Linked DNA regions of Homo sapiens. The protein of the gene in region 5 interacts with the protein of the main gene of each other region in a pairwise test. Each region holds a gene or a part of one and is shown on either strand. Other genes may lie near its edges.

Region 1 (4,446 bases), on a different chromosome or scaffold from region 5:
TGTAACAGATTTTCTGCGTATTTGATTTGTTTTATCCACACAGCTCTGGTTTTTGTTTTTAACTTGTGGTTAACAGCTAGTCTTTGTTGTTGTTGTTGTTGTTGTTGTTGAGACAGTCTCACTCTGTTGCTCCTCCCGGAGTACAGTGGTGCAGTCTTGGCTCGCTGCAACCTCCACCTCCCGGGTTCAACAGAGAGTCTCTCTTAAAATGAAATACTTCAAGGAAGGAATTTTTATCTTCAACAGTGTGGCTTTGTTGTGTTTTCAGATGTGAATCTATTCTAAAATCGAAATGGGAGTTTTACCTTGCATATCTTTCTTCTTACCTATTTAGAAAATTTGAATTTATTCAGAAACTGTGTTATATACATACAATTTGATATGCTCTCCTTTCAATATAAAATGATTTATCAAATGTGGGGGTGGTTCTTACATATTTTTATTTTGCGCTTGATTTTACTTTATGCTTGCAAATGTTTTTGCCTTTTTATATTTCCATTTTGCATTTTAACTCCTATTTTGTTTTCTTTTTTTAATTTTCTCCTAAAAGCATGAACTTACGAGAGGTGTTAAAAAAATATGGTAAAGATGTTGGTCTTCATATTAAAGCTGTAAGATCCTATAGTCAGCAGTTGTTCCTGGCATTGAAACTCCTTAAAAGATGCAATATCCTACATGCAGATATCAAGCCAGACAATATCCTGGTAAGTCAAACAGCCAAGCTGCGCTGTACATCTTGAACATACATTTCACTTCTTACTAGCAGTAATATTATTACTATGAGAAACGACATCTTAGAAGCATAGTTCAGTATATTAATAACCTATTTCAAATGACTAATACTTTTTTATCTTTCTTGGAAATCGGACAGTGAAATTTTATTGACAAGTATGAAGAAAAAGGAAATGTACAATTGTCCCTTTTTTTCTCTTTTGACTGATAGATTTAAAGTGTGCACCAATCCTGGAATGCTTTACTGTAGTAATGAGTTTCTTCTGTTATCTTTAGAAAAATGCTGCACATGTTGCTGTTTTGAAATAAGGAGTGTCCGTACTCTTCTGTTTGCTAATTTTATAGCTCCCTAAGCTGTGGCTCCTGGGGGCTCAAACACAATAAAGCTCAGTTGTGGTTAGGTATTATATTTAAAGGCATCGCTTTTGAAGTTTATTTTATTTTATTTTTAAACTTTCAAGTTCAGGGGTACATGTGCAGGCTTGTTACATAGGTAAACTTGTGTCATGGAGGGTTTGTACCCACTTTTCCTGATCCTCTCCCATCTCTCACCCTCCAGCCTCTGACGGACCCCAGTGTGTATTGTTCCCCTGTGTGTCCATGTGTTCTCACCTTTTGAAACCTTAATTCTCTTCGACTAGTGACTTCTGGTGGTAACAGCAGATTTCACAATGTATATGTTTTTAAAATTTTGAAATACATACATATTATCATAGTGATGTGATTAATGCACACACACACTCCTCCCCTCCCTGGCCCCATTACTTTACCCTGTTTTGTGGCCTTCAGTTTGGGTCGTGTTCGCAACTTGGAGAATTCCAGCTTATATGCTGGTAACATTCTGCATTTCATTTTTTTAAAATGGGTTCTCTTTATCAGTTCTCCTACAGTTGATGCCTAGGAGAGATCCTGAAGACTAAAAGCTAAGCGTGTAAGGTGTTCTTTATTGGGAACTCTTGGAGCTATAACAAAATAAATACTTTTGATTTTTTCTTTTGTTTTTTTTGTTTTGTTTTGTTTTGTTTTGAGGTAAGGTCTTGTTCTGTCACCCAGGCTAGAGTGCAGTGGTGCCATAATGGCTCACTGTAACCTCCAACTCCTAAGCCCAAGCAGTTCTCCTGCCTCCGCCTCCCCAGTAGCTGGGACTACCCACAGGCACATGCCACTGTGACTGCCTAATTAAAAAAAATTTTTTTTAGAGATGAGGTTTGGCTGGTCTCAAACTCCTGGGCTCAAGCAATCCTCCTGCTGCAGCCTCCCAAAGTGCTGGGATTATAGGTGTGAGCTACCATGCTTGGCCAAGATAAATTCTTTAAAAAATGGTGATCTCATTAAAGTTTAAGGAGTTTTTTTTTAATCAATAACTAAGCTATTTAATTCATATTTCTTTTTCTTTTTTGTTAATATCTTAAAATATTTCCTTTATTTCCTTCCAGACAACCACATTAGTAATGAGGTGTATTCCATTTTTATGTTTGGTCTGAATTATTATTGTATTGTATATCTAATGTAACTTGGAGTTAGGGGAGCTGAGTAATTTCATTGAAATGGTAGGTACATTAAAAATGAAGTATAAATTTGTGTGGCCAATTTCATAGTTGATTTTTACCTCAGTTTTTTTTATGAGACACAGCCTTGCCCTGTTACCAGGCTGGAGTGCAATGGCGTGATCTCGGCTCACTGCAACCTCCAACTCCCTGGTTCAAGCATTTCTCCTGCCTCAGCCTCCCGAGTAACTGGGATTACAGGCAGGGGCCACCACGCCCAGCTAATTTTTGTATTTTAGTAGAGACGGGGTTTCACCATGTTGGCCAGGATGGTCTTAATCTCCTAACCTCGTGATCTGCCCGCCTCGTCCTCCCAAAGTGCTGGGATTATAAGCGTGAGCCAATTTTTTGTTTTTTAATTGTGAAATACATGGTTCATGTCAAAGAATATGCAAAACATGTACAATTTAAAAGGTCATTTACAGTGAGCGTCTTTGTGACCATTGTGGAGGTTAAAGAATAACACATTTGCCAGTGTCACAGAAGAAACTCTTGTTTTTAAAACCTAATGCTAAACTAGTATAGGTTTTCACATACATTTAAGAAATGTTTTCCCGTCTTCCTGGGGAAGGAAAAAATAGACCTTAATGACGGAGCTGATTTTTGTTAATGAAAATCCAAAGCCTTTAGCTCGTAATTTCAGGTATCAGTGTGGTTTAAGTACCACATTCCTCATGACAGGAGCAGAAGTTGTGTAGCAAACTGAAGTGCATATGAGTATGGATACCCTGCTATTCTTTAAGGCATTTTAGCCAGCCCAAGAGTTCCACTGATGGATTCTAATTTTAAAATGGTTCTTAAGTTTTCTGTGGGTATTGAAACTGCTTAAGTAGCTGAATTCAGCTTACACTTTAAAAAGTTTTAAAATAACTTTTCTATTTTAAGATGCTTTTCTGATTCCCAAGATGAAAAGAATAGTAATCAATGTGGGAGTTAAAAATAATCATTTCTGTTCCTATTAATAGCTTAACTCTGGATATCATTTATAATAGTCCAGTCTCCCCATAGAGACTGCCTAAGGCTATAGTGTTATGCTGCTTTGGGGTGGGAGCAGTAGGCCAAGTTCAAGTCCCAACTCGGAATTTGTGTGTGTCTCTTTTGAAGGGGGGAAGGGACTCTGGAATATGAATTATCTTCACTTGTTAATCCTGAACATGCCTCTGACTCATGAGTGGCAGCAGTCATGGGAGCAACTCCAGCCTTTCTCAGCAGATGTCACTATTACTGTGTATGTTGAAGTATTTACAAAGGAAAAAAGAAACAAATGACTAATATAGAGTTCATGTTTATCAGTTTTGCCAGATATATTTAACATTTTCTTGACTAATACCTTCTTTATATTTGAGGGATTTAATATTTTTTAGACTTGAAGTGATTGCTAAATTTGGGATCATATAGCAGCTTCGGATGAAGAATATTTTGTTTTTGTCCAAGTTTATTCTGAATCACCCTTCTGCTTTCATTGCCATTGTAATTCTCTGGCAACTGAAAGTTAAGTCTGATTCCTTAGTTATAAAACTTGACTTTATTCAGGTATTCAGGGTCTTTTTAGAAGATGCTTTGCTTCATGAAATTAGATTTTTCTCTCAGTACCCCACCCTTTTAAAAATGCAGTTGTTAAAATTAAATGTACTTTGTGATATCCATTTCCTCACTGAAAACAGTTTTTACTCATTGTAATGAATATTTGATACATATTAACTTTTCATAGTTAGGAAATTGAATTAAAAATAAATAGAAAAGGAATTTTTAAATGAATGTCTTTGTTCTCAGTATTGGAATTAATAAAACTTTTCAAAGCCAATAATTTTTATTTATTTGTATTAATTATTCCTGGCTTGAATTAAATTCCCTTGAAAAAATGTTTTGCAGGTTAATGAATCCAAAACTATTTTAAAGCTTTGCGATTTTGGGTCGGCTTCACATGTTGCGGATAATGACATAACACCTTATCTTGTCAGTAGATTTTATCGTGCTCCTGAAATCAGTAAGTTTCTTAATGTTCTTTGACCTGGGCCATCATATGTGGTGGAAACCGCATACTTAATGTCTAAGCACTGTTTTCCATCACACTTCAGCAGCTGCACGAGTTCATTCATGAGGAAGGGAACCATAGCAAGTTCATCCTCCTCAGGTGGAATGAAGGTAGTTGTGACAGGAGTCTTGA
Region 2 (4,446 bases), on a different chromosome or scaffold from region 5:
AGTAGAGACGGGGTTTCACCGTGTTAGCCAAGGTGGTCTCGATTTCCTGACCTCGTGATCCACCCACCTCAGCCTCCCAAAGTGCTGGGATTACAGGCATGAGCCACCACACCCTGTCCTAATTTTTTTTAAGTTATACTTTTAAGTGCTGGGGTACATGTGCAGAATGTGCACGTTTGGGGTACATGTGCAGAATGTGCAGGTTTGGGGTACACGTGCAGAATGTGCAGGTATACACATGCCATGGTGGTTTGCTGCACCTATCAACGCGTCATCTACATTGAATACCCTTTATTTCTTTCTCTTGACTAATTGCCCTAGCATTTCTCCTAATGGTATCCCTCCCCTAGCCCCCTACCCCGCCACAGGCCCTGGTATGTGATGTTCCCCTCCCTGTGTCCATGTGTTCTCATTGTTCAAGTCCCACTTATGAGTGAGAACATGCAGTATTTGGTCTTCTGTTCTTGTGATAGTTTGCTGAGAATGATGGCTTCCAGCTTCCTCCATGTCCCTGCGGAGGACATGAACTCATCCTTTTTTATGGCTGCATAGTATTCCATGGTGTATATATGCCACATTTTCTTTATCCAGTCTATCATTGATGAGCATTTGAGTTGGTTCCAAGTCTTTGCCATTGTGAACAGTGCTGTAATAAACATACATGTGCACGTGTCTTTATAGTAGAATGATTTATAATCCTTTGGGTGTATACGCAGTAATGGGATTGCTGGGTCAAATGGTATTCCTGGTTCTAGATCCTTGAGGAATTGCCACACTGTCTTCCACAATGTTTGAACTACTTTATATTCCCACCAACAGTGTAAAAGTGTTCCTATTTCTCCACATCCTCTCTAGCATCTGTTGTTTCCTGACTTTTTAATGATCACCATTCTAACTGACATGAGATGGTATCTCATTGTGGTTTTGATTTGCATTTGTCTAATGACTAGTGACGATGAGCTTTTCTTCATATGTTTGTTGGCTGCATAAATGTCTTCTTTTGAGAAGTGTCTGTTCATATCTTTTGCCCATTTTTGATGGGTTTTTTTTTCTTGTAAATTTGTTGAAGTTCTTTGTAGATTCTGGATATTAGACCTTTGTCAGATGGATAGATTGCAAAAATTTTCTCCCATTCGGTAGGTTGTCTATTCACTCTGATGATAGTTCTGCTGTGCAGAAGCTCTTTAGTTTAATTAGATCCAGTTTGTCAATTTGGGCTTTTGTTGCCCTTGCTTTTGGTGTTTTAGTCATGAAGTCTTTGCCCATGCTTATGTCCTGAATGATATTGCCTAGGTTTTCTTCTAGGGTTTTTATGGTTTTAGGTCTTGCGTTTAAGTCTTTAATCCATCTTTAGTTAATTTTTGGATAAGGTGTAAGGAATGGATCCAGTTTCAGCTTTCTACATATGGCTAGCCAGTTTTCCCAACACCATTTATTAAATAGGAAATCCTTTCCCCATTGCTTGTTTTTGTCAGGTTTGTCAAAGATCAGATGGTTATAGATGTATGGCATTATTTCTGAGGCCTCTGTTTTGTTCCATTGGTCTATCTGTTTTTGCACCAGTACCATGCTGTTTTGGTTACTGTGGCCTTGTAGTATAGTCTGAAGTCAGGTAGCATGATGCCTCCAGCTTTGTCTTTTTGCTTAGGATTGTCTTGGCTATGTGGGCTCTTTTTTGGTTCCACATGAACTTTAAAGTAGTTTTTTCCAATTCTGTGAAGAAAGTCAATTATAGCTTGATGGGGATAGCATTGAATCTATAAATTACCTTGGGCAGTATGGCCATTTTCACGATATTGATTCTTCCTATCTATAAGCATGGAATGTTTTTCCATTGTTTGTGTCCTCTCTTATTTCCTTGAGCAATGGTTTGTAGTTCTCCTTGAAAAGGTCCTTCACATCCCTTCTAACTTGGATTCCTAGATATTTTATTCTCTTTGAAGCAATTGTGAATGGGAGTTCACTCATGATTTGGCTCTCTGTTTGTCTGTTATTGGTGTATAGGAATGCTTGTGATTTTTGCACATTGATTTTGTATCCCGAGACTTTGCTGAAGTTGCTTATCAGCTTAAGGAGATTTTGGGCTGAGAAGATGGGGTTTTCTAAATGTACAATTCATGTCATCTGCAAACAAAGACAATTTGACTTCTTCTTTTCCTAATTGAATACGCTTTATTTCTTTCTCTTGACTGATCACCCTGGCCAGAACTTCCAATACTATGTTGAATAGTAGTTGTGTCAGAGGGCATCCTTGTCTTGTGCCAGTTTTCAAAGAGAATGTTTCCAGTTTTTGCCCATTCAGTATGATATTGGCTGTGGGTTTGTCATAAGTAACTCTTATTATTTTGATATATATTCCTTCAATACCTAGTTTATTGAGAGTTTTTAGCATGAAGGGCTGTTGAATTTTATCGAAGCATCATACTTCTCCTGAGAAAGAGATGAAAATTAACAGATACTGACGTTTGCTAACATAGGTCTATGCTGGTCTTGTTTTCCATTTACTAAAAACACTCAAGAAATAACAGCCTTTTATTCTGAGGGATAAGTAATTTAGTAGATAAATCAGCCTTCTCAGGTACATATTAATCTACTACAATTTTAATTTTATGTATAATAACTATAAAGTTTCTGCATCTGCTTCCTGTGAATTCCCTCCAAAGCCTATGATTGAAATTAGTTGTAAGTAATGTTTGAAGAACTTTTGCAATTTCTTTTATGAGAACTTGAAGAGTATCACTTAATACATATAAACTTAGCTGGCAAATCCAGGTTTGGGGCAACCTTTCTCACTAATGAGCAGTGTGAGCCTGGACAAATCACACCCAACATTTCTGAGCTTCCATTTTCCCTGCATGTCTGATGAGGGCCCTGTGACCCAACAATAGCACAGGCTGTTTCTTTCTGGCTCTAAAAGCTCTAGCTCTAAGTTACTTTTATTTCCAAGATCAATGCATAAAATAAATTTCAGAGCTACTTTCTTGATTTTCCAAACAGTGCTGAAGAATCAGGAGACAAACTTGAATTTGTAATATTAAGAAAAAGAAAAAAAAGGAGAAAACCCACACCCATCACTGAAGTAATTTCAAAAACAAGCAATTTACTTGTGCCCAACAGAAGTCCCAGACAAACTTCTATTACTCTGAAGAGAAAAAATATGGTAGGTGAATAAATTAGGAGGGAAACACACCACAGACACACACACACACACACACACTACACACATGTATTAATATGAAGTAAAAGAAACCTATCCCATCAGATAAGAATATGCCAAAAATCCAAAGGCTGTTTTTCAGAACAGGTGAAACTACTGTTTCCCACCAAAACCAATCTGATATTTCATAAACTAAATTACAATTGTAAGAAGAAAAATAAGTGTAAAATAAGAATTTTTGTTTTATAGGTGTTCTTTAATTTGTCAAAGACATCCCACTGATAAAAATTCATCCTATATAGCTAGGAGCTATATATAGGAGCTATATCTAAATTTTTCTTTTCTTCAGAGAAACAGAGTAGCTTATCATCTAACTAAATTGCTATGGTGCTTCAACTGAGCTCAATTCTAACAAGTCAAGTTGGTTAAATTACAAAAACAGATTTCAACAAATCATGTTAACATACAAGCTATAATTTTCAGAAAGCATTTGCTTTTAAACACTGATGATCTGCAATTTTTTTTTTAATTTTCATCACATTTGCCCCAGTAGACCTTTAAATAATCCAGAAAAAGTTAAAGTGGGAACTTATTTTCCCATTTTGCCCTGCTTTTGTTTTGATTACCTTTCACGTTTATCATAAATTTAAGAAAGGGATTGTGAAGAGAAGGAATGACCCACTAAGTTTCTACAGAGATACCTAAGTAATTTAACATCAGCAACACCCAAGTCTTTCCAGTTCTTCCACATTCTCCCATGTGCCTTGGGCACCCTCCAATCAGACACTATCCTGACATCGCCTCTCTTGGAACACCTTCCTCAGGACATCCATTTGGCAAAATGGGTTGGAAAGAATGGTCTCAGGTTCCCCCAGTGATTGGAAATGTGCTTCTGCCTCTCTCATTCAAACCTAGGTAGAAGAAGAAAAAGAAAAAAACAGATAGAAAGCTCAAAACAGCAGTCTGAAATGTAATTAATGTTTCTTGGCACAGATGTCTATAGGAGTGATCACTTCAATAGTTGGTGTGACATGGGCACACCACCATCTTTAAGCAGAGGAACCATGTTCCTCATGGTAGAAAATGCACCCCTGGACTGGGTATTCATTAAGTATTAGTGTTTCACATTTCAAGTTATATAAAAATACTTTCAGCCAAAAAATTTTCAAACACATGAATGAATATATTTTTTAAAATGTATTGAGTTTAATATATATATCAGCACACAAAGAACTTCATAAAAATAAATAAGAATAATTTTTAAATGGTCTTATTCCTACAAGAACCTA
Region 3 (4,446 bases), on a different chromosome or scaffold from region 5:
GGCTGGAGGTCAGTGGCGTGATCTCAGCTCATTGCAACTTTGGCTTCCCAGGTTCAAGCAATTCTCCTGCCTCAGCCTCCCGAGTAGCTGGGACTACAGGGACGCACCACCATGCCCAGCTAATTTTTGTAATTTTAGTAGAGACGGGGTTTCACCATGTTGGCCAGGATGGTCTCAATCTCTTGACCTTGTGATGCACCCGCCTTGGCCTCCCAAAGTGCTAGGATTACAGGCGTGAGCCACCACACCCAGCCTGAGGAATAACCTTTTAATGAAAAGTGGCTTAACTTTTGTCCAGGCTGTTGCTGCTCTCACAGAAGGTGTTGATTCTTGTAGCACACACAGTAGGTGGTGTGTGCTGTGTCACGTGGCTCTTAAGGAAGGCGACCTGGGGAGTTGGGTGTGCATGTGCGCGTGTGTAGTGTAGTGTGGTATGAGTGGATGCTCCTGGACCTGTGATGTTTCGGGCATAGCGTTTGCCCTTAGTTTCTGGTTGGAGAAGTCTGAGCCCTGAGCAGCTGCTGTGAGTGGCGTGACCTACCTGCAGGGACTGCAGGGCTTGCCCTCGGGTTACGCCCAGTCGTTACATGCTGCTGTTATACAACACCAGATTTGCAAGTCTGATGCCATGTGCCTGCTTATTGGGTTATGGCTTATTTTGCCCATGCTCCCCCAGGGAGCCCAGATTAATATTTTCTTCACTTCTAAATTTAAATATTCACTAGCTCCTCTGGGGTTCAGACTGCATTAGGTTCTGTGCTGAGCACCCATCCTGGAAGGTGGGATCACACAGGGCCGGCTTTGGGAGCAGTGGGAAGCCATCCGATGGCTTTGAGTTAGGAGAAATTTGGGTTAGAATTACATGGACAAGACACCTGTAATCCCAGCACTTTGGGAGGCCGAGGTGGGCAGATCACCTGAGGTCAGGAGTTCAAGACCAGCTTGGCCAACATAGCAAAACCGCGTCTCTACCAAAAATACAAAAATTAGCTGGGTGTGGTGGTGGGCATCTGTAATCTCAGCTACTCGGGAGGCTGAGGCTGGGAGAATCGCTTGAACCTGGGAGGCAGAGGTTGCAGTGAGCTGAGATCACGCCATTGCACTCCAGCCCAGGCGACAGAGCAATACTCTTTCAAAAAACAAAAAACAAAACAAAACAAAAAAAGGAATTACATGGACAGGTGAAACTGGAACTGAAATGCTGTGGAAAAGGCAGCTCTCACCATACTGGAAACTTGCACCCCAAGGGCTCCTCCAGCATCTCAAGGGTGCAGGCTGATGGGACGGTGCTTGTTTCCCAGCTGAACAAGCGCCCTGATGAAGGCGTGCGGGGTGATGGGATGGCCTTCGCCGTTCTCACCCGATGTCTCGTTGTTCAGTCTTCCCTGGGTTCTGCCTCCGCCTCGCCCTTCCAGCCGCACGTGCCTTACAGCCCTTTCCGAGGGATGGCGCCCTACGGCCCGCTGGCGGCCAGCTCCCTGCTCAGCCAGCAGTATGCCGCCTCCCTGGGTCTAGGTGAGTGACCTGTTTCTGTCTGGTAAACTACCCTTGCGTGTAACTGTCACTGAGTGGAGCGATGGAGCCTGAGGGTGGGGATATGCATTCCTGTCATGCTCAGCTTGTAGACTGTTTTGTTGCACACTTAGTAAATTACCCAGTGCAACTTCCGCTTGTGAGAGCATTTAGTAACTACTCAACTGAAAGTAAAAGAGGCAGCAGCCTGAGTGTTGGAACAGAAGAATCAAATCAAAATTCATTCGAAGAGTCAGGGCGGATCTAGGTGGAAGTCCTGGGCCAGGCATAGTGGCTCACTCCTGTAATCCCAGCACTTTAGGAGGCCAAGGCGGGTGGATCACAAGGTCAGGAGTTCGAGACCAGCCTGGCCAACATGGGGAAATCCTGTCTCTACTAGAAATACAAAAATTAGCTGGGTGTGGTGGGACACACCTGTAATCCCAGCTACTTGGGGGGTTGAGGCATGAGAATTGCTTAAACCTGGGAGGCAGAGGTTGCAGTGAACTGAGATTGCACCACTGCACTCTAGCCTGAGCGGCACAGTGAGACTCTGTCTCAAAAAATAAATAGGTGGAAGTCCTGGTATATCTGCTTCAAAGAAGAAATAGCTGATATATATGTAGTATTACAGATGAAGTCTAGCTGTTTGCACATTTATAAGCCTGTAAATATAGACGTGAAATACAAACCCACCCATCATGTCCCTTATTCTACTGTAAGTGCCTCGCTCAAAAATGGTTTCAACCAAGATTGAAAAACCCCAGAGTATGATTCTATTCTCCATATGTAGAGAAAGATCCTGCCTTGTCCTTAACCTGGACCTAGCTTTGCAGATGGGCTCAGAGTGTAGAATTGGCAGGTGATCCACGACCCTTGCTCAGAATCCAGCATGAAGTAGTGAGACAGGGAACCCTAAACGAGGTCTGTAGGCCACTTGCTGCTACAAATCATGCTTGCTTGGTTGCTATTCCTAGTGTGACAGGCGGCCTTCCCAGCCCAGCTCTCTGGGTTTCTAAAACGTGTTTGTATGACAGAATCCTACAAGAGGTTGCTTGGCTCTTTCCAAGCTTGCTAGACACAAGACAAGTGTATCCTGACTTATTTGTGTGCTTTCTTTTTGCTCTTTCTCCTTTATCTTCCTTTAGAGAAGTTGGTAAGCCCTCCAGCCTCAGCCGCTGCTTCCAGCCCTAGCTCTTCTCCATCTCCACAGCCCGTTTCAGAGCTTGACTTGTCCTCAGAGCCACAGCAGCTCACTGCCAAGGGTAACAGCAGTTTGGGAGAACTGCATGCTGTCTTGCAAACCATTCTGAGAGCGAGGGGTAAAGCAGCAGACAGAATGACAGTAGCTGTAGCAGATCATTTGCCAAGCCCATGCAGCCGCTGAGCTGCTTGTTTTGCTTCAGCATGTAGTCCTGATTGATGAACTCTCAGTGTTAAAGAAGGGATTACGAAGAATCAGCGGAGTAGTTTGTTCTCTCTCCCTGGGTCCAGGTTCTCTGTTGACCTGTACCATGACTACCACATACGGGAAACTTCACTGTTCACAGAAAGTCATTTCCCTGGGGTTTTTGCTGGGTCCTAAATGTGTTCCAGAGTGCTGCAGGGGGGACTCCCCAAAGCACCTGACATGCCTGTTTTGCTCTTTGATCCGTGTGGTTCATAGATCACTCATTGAGGGGATTCAAAATTAGGGGCTTGGGTGACAGTCGCCAACTGTTTGGCCAGGTGGACAGTATCAGCCTGATGGCCAGCTGGCCAGTGTACACCACCTGTCTCTGTGCTGTGGTGGTGGCGGCACCTGTGGGGTTTCTAGATCTTTTCTCACGTTCTACTCATTTCCCCTGAAGTTCTAAAATTCATATTGACGATCTTGCTGTATGTTTGTGTTACACATAGCACCCTGACAAGCTGAACCATCGCCATTACCCGGCCCTGGTCCAGGTTGATGCCTGGGCTTTCCTTATGGCACACAGCTGCTGTCAGTCTGTCATTCTGCAGGTGCTGCTTTCCAAATCCTGCATGCACTCTGTGTATCTGAGTTACAGAGTAGTCTTTTTTTTTCCCCCACTTAAAAATGACACAGATACTTCTATTGCTCTTAGGATCAGTTACCTAAACCTGCTCATAGGGCAAGACTTTGTTTGAACTAGTTGGTTGTGTAAAAAGCAGACAAGCCCCTTATCCATGCCCCTGCAGTCACAGTATGATCAGCAGGCAGGCAGTGCTGTGTTTGTCTCCCGGACATGCTGAGTGAGACAATCAGTGAGAAAGTGGCCCGGGTGCATTCCCGCCAGAGGACACTTTCCAGACCTCTATGCAGAGTCGTTCCAACCTGCCCTTTGAGAGCTTCTCTTGATCTGGTTACAAGGAATTTTTCTACAGTCAATTTTTTTTTTCATTTCTATTCCGTAAAAGCAGTAAGATGAGATGCCCAGTCTTCATGTGTATTGGGCTGTTCGTCTAATAATAATTACCCTGTGGTTAGGGTGCCTTTTCTGTTTCAGATCTCTGTTCACTTACACCCAGTCCCACATTGTCCTGTTTAGAGTCCCTACAGGTCCTGGAACCTTGGAAAGGGAGGAGATGGAGAGAGGTGGGTGGTGCTTCCCATTTTCCTCCTGATTCAGAGGGCCTGGTTTCTGAGGGTTCATCCCCTGTGCGTGGGCCTCGGACTGCAGTTTCATAGGCATAGCCCCTTGCCAAAGGCTACCTAGGAGCCCTTTGTGTCTTCATGATGAGCCTTTGCCCTTGAGAGAAGTGTAGGCTGCTACGTCTCGGAAGTCAGCTCCTGCTTCATCATTTTTAGTTTTATTGTGCCTTAAGTGGAAATGACAGTGTTGTAGAATTTAACTTCAGAATTTGTTCACTGCATTTTCTAGAAAATCCCAGGCTGGGCTGGTTCTTCTCCAGTGTGGACCAGAATGAAACAAA
Region 4 (5,230 bases), on a different chromosome or scaffold from region 5:
AGGTTCAGGGCTGGAGTGGGTAGGTGAGGGTGATGAGAGTGGAGAAAAGGAAAGCAAGAATAGGCTGCAGACCGTGTAAGGCCAACATCTGGGACACGGTCACTGCCCCTCCTCCCTGCACAAACCGCAGACGCCGTGGCAGCAGGAAAATCAGAGCGGTCCAGACCAAGAATGATTGTGCAACCTGGCCCTGCAGGAGCACAACGCTGGAGGTGGGAGTGGAGGTCTGGGGTGCGGGGCAGAGTCCACTTTAGAGGGGAGACTTCAGTTCTTACTAAAAACACAGGCATTCAGGGCTCTGGTTTCCACACTAGAATGCAATGCAACTAACATGCATTTTGTAGTTCAAAATCCTCTGAGAATCGGAACTGGAATCTCTGCCCTGGGCCCCAGTGTCTCACAGCCAGAGGCACGGTGCCACTGAGGTTCTAGGATGGCTGCTGTGGATTGGCTGCTGTGGATGGCGGTGGGTGTGGAAGGAGGCCTTTCGTCCAGCCTCCTAAAGTGGCGGGATTCTGCCACCTCCCCCAGGCGCCTCACAGTAAACTCTTCCTCAGCAAAGGGAGCCCCGCCCAAGTCTTTAATATGGCTCAAGGAGTGGGGATGGGTTGGGAGGGAGAAACTGGATGGTCAGGGGGAAGTTTGATCTGAGGGCTACCCCAAACAAACACAGGAGAGGAGCAGTGGATTTTCCTTTTAATGCAAAATGTTGCAATACAAAACAATGTGGAGAAAGTCCTGTTCCTCAGGACACTGAAGGGAGGAGTGAGGAAGAGAGGACAGAGCTGGACGTCTCCTCCTATTTCTCCCTCCCCAAGTCACTCTGAGGGGAAGAACACTGCTGCCTGCTCCCTGGGCCTGCCCGCATACAAGGTTAGAGCCCTGGGTCTGGGGCATCCTTAGCCTGAAATTTGTTGACATGGGGCAGGAGAGCAGGAGGGAACATTGAGGGTTTTGACTCTTCGGGCTCTAAAAGGATTACTCAGGATCTGGAGTTCCGTATGAAACAAAGGAGCTGAAAGAATTTGATTGCCATTGGCTAAAAATATAGAGGATTTGAGCCACAACTGGCCCACATTTGAAGAATGAGGAACAAGAAATTTAGTGGGGATATAATATAAATGTATGGGAGTGAGAAAGATGCAAAAAACAAGGCTAGCTCCTCAAACCTCCTCCTCTTTCTTCCTCATCTCCAGCTTATAGACAATCTGGTAGCCATCATCCCAGGCATAGAGCTGGCGTTCTCGGGGGTTATAGCGGAGGCTGGCATGGGCACCATATCTGCGGGGAAAATAAGGGAGTGCTGCCCGTTCAGGGGTCAGGGTGCCGCTGGCATCAAAGGAGCACTGGATGCGGGCCCGACTGGCAGGACGGGTGTTATAGACGACATAGAGGGTCCCACAGATGACAAAGGCAGCCTCAGCATTCTCTCTGGGACATGGTGTGTCCCACTGCTGCTCTGTGTCCAGTGTCTGTGGATCTAACTTGGCCAGACACAAGTGCCTGTCATCCTCCCGGGTGGCATAGACAGCCCAAAGACCTTCCTCATCAGCTGCCAGGTCGATGTAGGTGTCTGCTGTCAAGCCGTAGGGGGGGATCAGCCCCTCTGCTGGGAATACTGAGCTGTCCACCACTGTTCGGTTTGCCAGGTGGAATTTGATTAGCTGCAAAGTGTTCTCCATCTCACCACCTCCACCAGGTCTTCCAGGAGGCCTCCGAGCAAAATAAAGAAAGCCACCATATACCAGCTGCCCTGTGCCTACCCAGGGGAAGGGCACCCGGACTCGGGAAGCTTTCCGGGCAGCCATGGCAAGGGTGAAGTCACGCAGCCTTGGGAAGACAAAGGCTGTGTCATTCTGTGTCCCATCTAACACGTAGATCTTCTCTGTTTGCCCCAGTGGATCCTTGGTCCATAGACCAGCTGGGCCACCAAATCGCTTCAGAATCTTCATTGATCTCACTTGAGAGATTGTGTAGCCACAGTCTGATGAGAAAAGCACAGGAAAAGGAAATAGAGGCAAGAATTAGATGCCTCCAGCAGGAACTCCCCCAGGGTGGGTGATCTGGAGAATAGTGAGCATTTGCCCAGTGGTTGCCTCCAATCTTAGGGAGAATTGAGAAAGAGCGGGTACCACAGCGGCCTGGATCCCCAGAACCTCTCCTTAATAGACCTGGCATTACAGAGGTTTCCCTAAAACAGATTCCAGAAGACAGAGCCACAATGGACTGGGACAAAGCGAAAAAAAGAGTAAGAAGCAAGGAAGGAAGAATATCGGTTCTGAGAAGAGTTAGGGGCCTGCTTTCAGATTATTTACCTGTCACCATATCGTACTTCTCATTCCTTCTTCCCTTGCCTTTGGTCCCAGGGCCTCCAGTCACCTTCTCATCAAACTCTACACAGGGCAGAGCTGGGTTCTGGGTCTCCAGATAGTCTACCTCCCGCTCCAGACGATCCACTCTCCCGGAGATGGTGTCGGCCTCAGTTCTGAGTGCCTCCCGCTCCTTCTCTGCCACCTCCAGCAGTGGCAGCATCTTGTTCTTGAAGTCCCGCAGCTCAGCAGCATGCCGACTACTCTGGTCCTGGCACTGGGCCAGCCGTTCCTGAAGGGATGGGGGATCAGGAGGGAGGCTGCAGGGTTACAACTCCCAGGCAGGGAGAGGCCCAACTCGGGAGTCAGGAATGGGAAAAAAAGAGCAAACTCAGCCAGGCTTCAATATCCCCTTCCACTCCTGCAGAAAAGGAAACCAGATGTGCAGAGGTGCTAAATGTGCAAAGAGCCTAGCTGAGATTCACCTAGGCCCCTACCCCGACTCCATGTCCTCCAGCCTGTGTTCTCTGTGAGCAGTGCCACTGAGCCATCTGAGCCTCTAGGCAGGTCTAAGCGCATGAAGGTGTGAAGAGGTCTCTGCTCCCTTAGCAATTATCCTCTCGGACACTAAAATGCTACGGATCTCAACCTGTTAAAAAGACAGGAAGTTATAGATTCCCCGGGAACCTCCAACTTCAACAGAATCATCACCTTCTCTGGAGATGCAGCCCCACAATTTTGGCTCTCGTTTCCACTCTGCCCCCTTATTCTATCTAATCCCAGAGGTAAAACGCAAAAGTCGATTTGCTTTGGAATTGTTCTATGTGGGGTAAGAGGAGGGCTTGTCATTCCGAAGGTCCTCTTATTAAGAGAGAATTTTCTGTAGACTCTAACAGAGCCCTTTCTTGTTATCCCCAGATCCCTAACAAACTGGTTGAACCAATAGCCCTGGAATCCTTCTAGGCGGGGCTAGAAGAGAAAGGGGTCCCTCACCTCTAAAGCAGCTAGTCGGCGTTCCATGTACTCCACAAGGTGGTGCTGCTGTCCTTGGAGGGGTCCCGACCATGACAAAAGGAACAAGATGAGGAGAGGGGTGCTGGGCCCCATGGCAGCCTGGAGAGTGGTGCCAGAGTAGAAGGAACGTACAGTCAGCCTCTTCCCCTCAAGCCCGAGGGTTAGCTTTGGAGGCGGGGTGGGGGCGGTGCCTTCTCTCCTGATCTCTGGGTCTCTCTCACTACTCTGGAATGCTTTCAGTTCTCTTTACAACCCCCACCCCCTCCTTTCCGCCAGGATTGATCAAACACAGATGGCCCCATTGCACAGCAGCCAGAAGCCTTAACCACCTCCCGCCTAGGCTGTAGGGTCCTCTGGAGGGGAAAGAGATGGAAACCCGAAAGCAGAGGCCTTCTAGGCAGTCAAGCAGGGAAGCTAGCTGCAGAAAGCAGAGACCCCAGAGAAAACTCAGCAAACGCCATTCCTGTTTTAGGAAAGTTTCACCAGTGCTGACTTAAGAAACTGACATTTTTCATTAATCTTTCCCTTTCCCTGCAATAGAGTGGGTTTTCAGCCTTGTTCAGTAGAAGCTGGGAGCTGGGGAGGTGAGGCTTGAAGGGAGGAAGCAGGAAAACAATGGCCCAAGTGGTCAAGCCCAACTTATTCTAAAGCTCATTGGCGCCACCTTGTGCTAAGCAGCTGGTGTCATCTCTCATGATAATACAGAAACTAAGGCTTAGACTTCACCCCATGAGGAAAATTTTCCACAAAAGCCAAATATATTGAATTTACAGGGGTTTTCACCACTGAAATGCATATTTCCCCCAAGACTATCCAATTACTACTTTGGGGGCTATGCAAATATCTGATTTAGCCCAAGGAAGAAAATATAACTGAGATTAAAAAAAAAAAAAAAACAGGTCACTGAGAAGTTAGTAAATTAACTCGATCGTCTGGAAGTTAAGGCTGACAGCAGCGCTGTTTTACATGGCTTTCCTTTGCTTGAAAGAGGCCAGATATAGTCTCTCACCAAAACTGAGGAGTGTTCAGTGAGTTCACACTAATTTACTATACATTCATGTATTGCGGGGGGGCGGAATCTGATATATATATATATGTTGTTGCAGTCTAGATCAATGTATTCTGACTTCCTTACCACTGGGAGAAAAGACTATTGGTTATTTCTCTTGGTTGTGGTCCAAAAGGGTATTTCTGAGTGTTTCTCATTTCTATATCCCAACTAAGGCTGCAGGAGCCCAAAATGAATTAATGGCCACCATAAGGTAGACTTGGGCCATAAGGTAGACACACGGGCCGAAAAAAAAAATCAAATAGAGCATTTACTCAGAGACCTGCAGTCATTAATCGAAACAAACCCCTATTTCTTTATCGGGAGAAATTCTATTCACTTTAGAATCAACAGAATCTGATGAGAGGTTCCTTCTGTAAAAAGGACCATGACTCTAACAGTACAGTTTGAAAGGAGGGGAAAAATAGCAGCTTCCTGTGGTTACTCATCTTTTCATTCTGCTACTGCTATCTGGCAAAACATATGAGGAAACAAAGCTTAATTAGCCGGTCTCAGAAGTCTTCTACCTCTTTCAAAGGGTCAGATCCAGATGATGTGAAGTAAGGACCCTGGACACTGCATTCTTGGGAAGTATTCCCTGCCAAACCCTATTCATTTCCAGTATGGAGATTTGTGTGAAGAATGAAATTGTCTCTAGTACTCTACTGATGTTCAAATACAATATGCTTAGCCACTTTCAAAGATGTCATTTATTGATCCCCTTTATATCCTATAACAGAAGTCAAAAACAGCCACATAAGTCAGAAAATTTACCCATTTTATTGATGCATTGCAATTGCTCTACATTTTACCATATTATGTAGAAAATACTGAAAATACAAGCTACTTTGTAAAACCA
Region 5 (3,485 bases):
CACTGTCTTCAGCTACAAAGCTTTCAGAGAGATTTTATTAATATAAGCAAATACATACTTTTTAAAAAAGTATAAATAAGGCCTGGTGCAGTGGCTCACGTCTGTAATTCCAGCACTTTGGGAGGATGAGGTGGAAGGATCTCTTCAGGCCAGGAGTTAGAGACCAGCCTGGGCAACATAACAAGACCCCCATCTCTAAAAAAACAATCAAAAAAACTAACTGGGCATGGTGGCATGGTTCTATAGTCCCAGCTACTCAGGAAGCTGAGAGTGAGGGATTTCTTGATTCCAGGACTTCGAGGCTGTCACCCACTCCAGCTTGGGTGACAGAGCAAGACTCTGTCTCAAAAAAAAAAAAAGTATAAACACTAGCATATCATATATTGCCCTGGACTTTTCTTTTTGATTTAACATATCTTGGAGATTCTTCCATAGCTGTGGATAAGGAGTTGCCTCATTCTTTTTCAGGGTAAGTTTAGTATAAAGGGTGATATAGTGGGGAAATTATATTTAATTTATTTTTGCCAACTCAGTAGCAGAGCTGTGACAAGATTAATCCTTAGATTTTTGGAGGTTCATATCAAATCATTCAAAGCTTTGACATTTTTCTCTTCTTTGTGGCTCTATTTTCATCACTAAAATTCCCCATCCTATGCCCCTGCAGCCCCCATCTGACGTTTGTCACTTCTCTAGCTTAGTCATCTGATCTAATTTTGATGAGTCAGATGTAAATAAACCCAGATAATGTGTCTTTTAGCCCAAAAGACTAAAAGATAAAATAAAAGGAAATGCATAGGACACAGGGCAGTTTGTTGAATGGCTGAGATTTGAATATGTGTGTATTAATTCTTTCTGAATTACAGCTAGATTCTGCCCTCCCCAGCTTTGTATCTGGAGACGAGGGAAAATGTGATCCCAGTTCATATTATGAGTGAACATCTCTGACTGTTCTAAGAAGTCCTATTCCCTTAGATTACTGAAGTTCACAGGGAGAAAGCACCCACCCAGATATTTTTGGTTTTTGTTTGTTTGTTTGTTTGTTGAGATGGAGTCTCACTCTATTGCCCAGGCTAGAGTGCAACGGTATGGTCTTGGCTCGCTGAAACCTTTGCCTCCTGGTTCAAGCGATTCTCCTACCTCAACCTCCCAAGTAGCTAAGATTTCAGACATAAGCCACCATGCCCAGCTAATTTTTGTGTTTTTAGTACAGACAGGGTTTCACCACATTGTTCAGGCTGGGCTTGAACTCCTGACCTCAGGCGATCCACCCGCCTCAGCCTCCCGAAGTGCTGGGATTACAGGCATGAGCCACCGCACCTGGCCTCACCCAGATATTTTTCAAATACCATTTTCGATTCCCACTCTCTTTCTTGAAGTAAGCAAGGCAGACACATTTGCCAAGGATAACTGAGAATGTAAGGGCAATCCATGACTGGGCAGCTTGTGCAGGCTGTGTGCTAAATGCACTGGGAAACATGCCCTATAAATAGCCGTTCATTGTCAGCATGTGTGAAAAGACAAGAGAGCATTCCGTGCTATGATTCAGGCCTAATTAAGTGATTGCGTCTGGGCACGGCTATAAACCACTAGCTGCTTCAACTGGTAATCCAGTCAGTAGGCAACTGCAGGGGCTCGCCACTGACTGAAGGCAGTGGAAGGTTGGCAGAAGGAGGCTGTTCAAGGCTGTTTTTGCCTTCACTATGGCAAAAATCATTTTGAGGCACCTCATAGAGATTCCAGTGCGTTACCAGGAAGAGTTTGAAGCTCGAGGTCTAGAAGACTGCAGGCTGGATCATGCTTTATATGCACTGCCTGGGCCAACCATCGTGGACCTGAGGAAAACCAGGGCAGCGCAGTCTCCTCCAGTGGACTCAGCGGCAGAGACGCCACCCCGAGAAGGCAAATCCCACTTTCAGATCCTGCTGGACGTGGTCCAGTTCCTCCCTGAAGACATCATCATTCAGACCTTCGAAGGCTGGCTGCTGATAAAAGCACAACACGGAACCAGAATGGATGAGCACGGTTTTATCTCAAGAAGCTTCACCCGACAGTACAAACTACCAGATGGTGTGGAAATCAAAGATTTGTCTGCAGTCCTCTGTCATGATGGAATTTTGGTGGTGGAAGTAAAGGATCCAGTTGGGACTAAGTGACATCGTATCGGTTCCTGTTCAGATGACATGGGGAAGATGATGGTTCAGCCACTGGTACTACGAGAATGTTTGTATTACCCACATTTGAAATGATTTGCTATGATTTTTATGAAGATTAAAAATATATACACAGTTCCTGGTATGTTGAGGTTGTCTTTATTATTCTTACTCAGAAAGGAAAATTTGTAAATATGTTTGTGTGGCTCAAACTGATACTATTCTTACAACTGAAACATTGAAAATACAGAAGGCTGTATTTGGATATTAGAGAGGACTCCGAATTGTTTCTTATTATTCCAACAATGCCAGCTGCATTTGTAATCACTGATGGCAAAAGAGCTATACCCATTTAAGGAATTCCTATCCATTTTATGAAAATCTTTTATTTTGCCAAAAAGAGTTGTGATTCCCTTCACTCGATAAGCTTTTCTTTTTAATGTATTTTAATTAAAATGAGGTTTTATAAATATGGAGTGCAAAAATTAAAATACAGTATTTGGAAATTGGGTCTGATATCTATTTATGATTTAGTATAGTTGTTACTGCCTTAAAGGTCAATGGGAATTTTCAGATATAAATCTTATTTTTAAAAAGTTCAAATATGTACCTCATTCATCTTTTTAAAGATATACTGAATCCTATCTGAAGTGTTTTGACTTTTTAAAGATAGTATAAGTTCTATGGACACGTACAAAATGTTCATGAGATATGTATTTACATATCCTCTTGTAAATTAATATGAAGCTTAAGGACACCACTTTTAAAAGTTTGATTGCTGAATTCAGTGAGTTTTAATCTGTGCTTTTTAGATGCTCCATAAACTTAGATGGCAAAATGTAACACATCTGCTATCTCTGCATAATCCTTAGCTTTAAATAGCCTGGCAGCCAATGGAAGTTCAACACCTGAGCTTACACTGCGTGTCTGAGTTTACACAGCACATCTGATGATTGGTGCTTATTATATTCTCCCAAACTACTGCCTTGGCTCAAGGTGGAGACATTGGTAGAGGTTAAGGACTAGTGCCTTCAACAGCTGCTCTGGGACATTCCAAAGGTTTGCTATCTCATTCTGTATACATTAAGTATTTCTTCAGAGGCAGTGGCTGCCTGCCTTTTACCCCGCACTGAATGTGAGCTGACAAGCAGCCCAAGGACAGTGCTAAGAATAGACATGGAATGCAGGGTGTGGAAAACACCAGGGCAAATGCAGATTGCTGACAGTATCCCAGTACTCCCCCACGTTGTTTTACTGTAGCTCAAGTTAAAATGTAAAAGACATGAAGCAATAGAAAAACGAATCAAACAGTTCTAAAAGTTATTTTGAAAACAA

Evidence for each region.
Region 1: the proteins of HSPB3 (region 5) and PRP4K interact in a two-hybrid assay, tested with the Homo sapiens proteins (one large-scale study listed by BioGRID and IntAct).
Region 2: the proteins of HSPB3 (region 5) and BBOX1 interact in a two-hybrid assay, tested with the Homo sapiens proteins (one large-scale study listed by BioGRID and IntAct).
Region 3: the proteins of HSPB3 (region 5) and LSM14B interact in a two-hybrid assay, tested with the Homo sapiens proteins (one large-scale study listed by IntAct).
Region 4: the proteins of HSPB3 (region 5) and OLFML3 interact in a two-hybrid assay, tested with the Homo sapiens proteins (one large-scale study listed by BioGRID and IntAct).

Annotation. Positions count from the first base shown.
Region 1 is NC_000006.12:4,052,170-4,056,615, forward strand, and holds part of PRP4K (serine/threonine-protein kinase PRP4 homolog), read left to right. Parts: intron 1-550; coding exon 551-704; intron 705-3,383; coding exon of another isoform or gene 3,384-3,407; exon of another isoform or gene 3,408-4,083; intron 4,084-4,151; coding exon 4,152-4,266; intron 4,267-4,357; exon of another isoform or gene 4,358-4,446. UniProt on the Homo sapiens protein: Serine/threonine kinase involved in spliceosomal assembly as well as mitosis and signaling regulation. Connects chromatin mediated regulation of transcription and pre-mRNA splicing.
Region 2 is NC_000011.10:27,043,245-27,047,690, forward strand, and holds part of BBOX1 (gamma-butyrobetaine dioxygenase), read left to right. Parts: intron 1-2,997; exon of another isoform or gene 2,998-3,160; intron 3,161-3,941; exon of another isoform or gene 3,942-4,068; intron 4,069-4,446. UniProt on the Homo sapiens protein: Catalyzes the formation of L-carnitine from gamma-butyrobetaine.
Region 3 is NC_000020.11:62,124,925-62,129,370, forward strand, and holds part of LSM14B (protein LSM14 homolog B), read left to right. Parts: intron 1-1,301; coding exon of another isoform or gene 1,302-1,379; coding exon 1,380-1,515; intron 1,516-2,660; coding exon of another isoform or gene 2,661-2,777; intron 2,778-4,000; coding exon of another isoform or gene 4,001-4,108; intron 4,109-4,446. UniProt on the Homo sapiens protein: mRNA-binding protein essential for female fertility, oocyte meiotic maturation and the assembly of MARDO (mitochondria-associated ribonucleoprotein domain), a membraneless compartment that stores maternal mRNAs in oocytes.
Region 4 is NC_000001.11:113,977,703-113,982,932, reverse strand, and holds OLFML3 (olfactomedin-like protein 3 isoform 1 precursor), read right to left. Parts: upstream 3,460-5,230; 5' UTR 3,417-3,459; coding exon 3,303-3,416; intron 3,210-3,302; exon of another isoform or gene 2,861-3,209; coding exon of another isoform or gene 2,807-2,860; intron 2,731-2,806; exon of another isoform or gene 2,602-2,730; coding exon 2,316-2,601; intron 1,985-2,315; coding exon 1,164-1,984; 3' UTR 680-1,163; downstream 1-679. UniProt on the Homo sapiens protein: Secreted scaffold protein that plays an essential role in dorsoventral patterning during early development. Stabilizes axial formation by restricting chordin (CHRD) activity on the dorsal side.
Region 5 is NC_000005.10:54,454,090-54,457,574, forward strand, and holds HSPB3 (heat shock protein beta-3), read left to right. Parts: upstream 1-1,609; 5' UTR 1,610-1,700; coding exon 1,701-2,153; 3' UTR 2,154-2,288; downstream 2,289-3,485. UniProt on the Homo sapiens protein: Inhibitor of actin polymerization.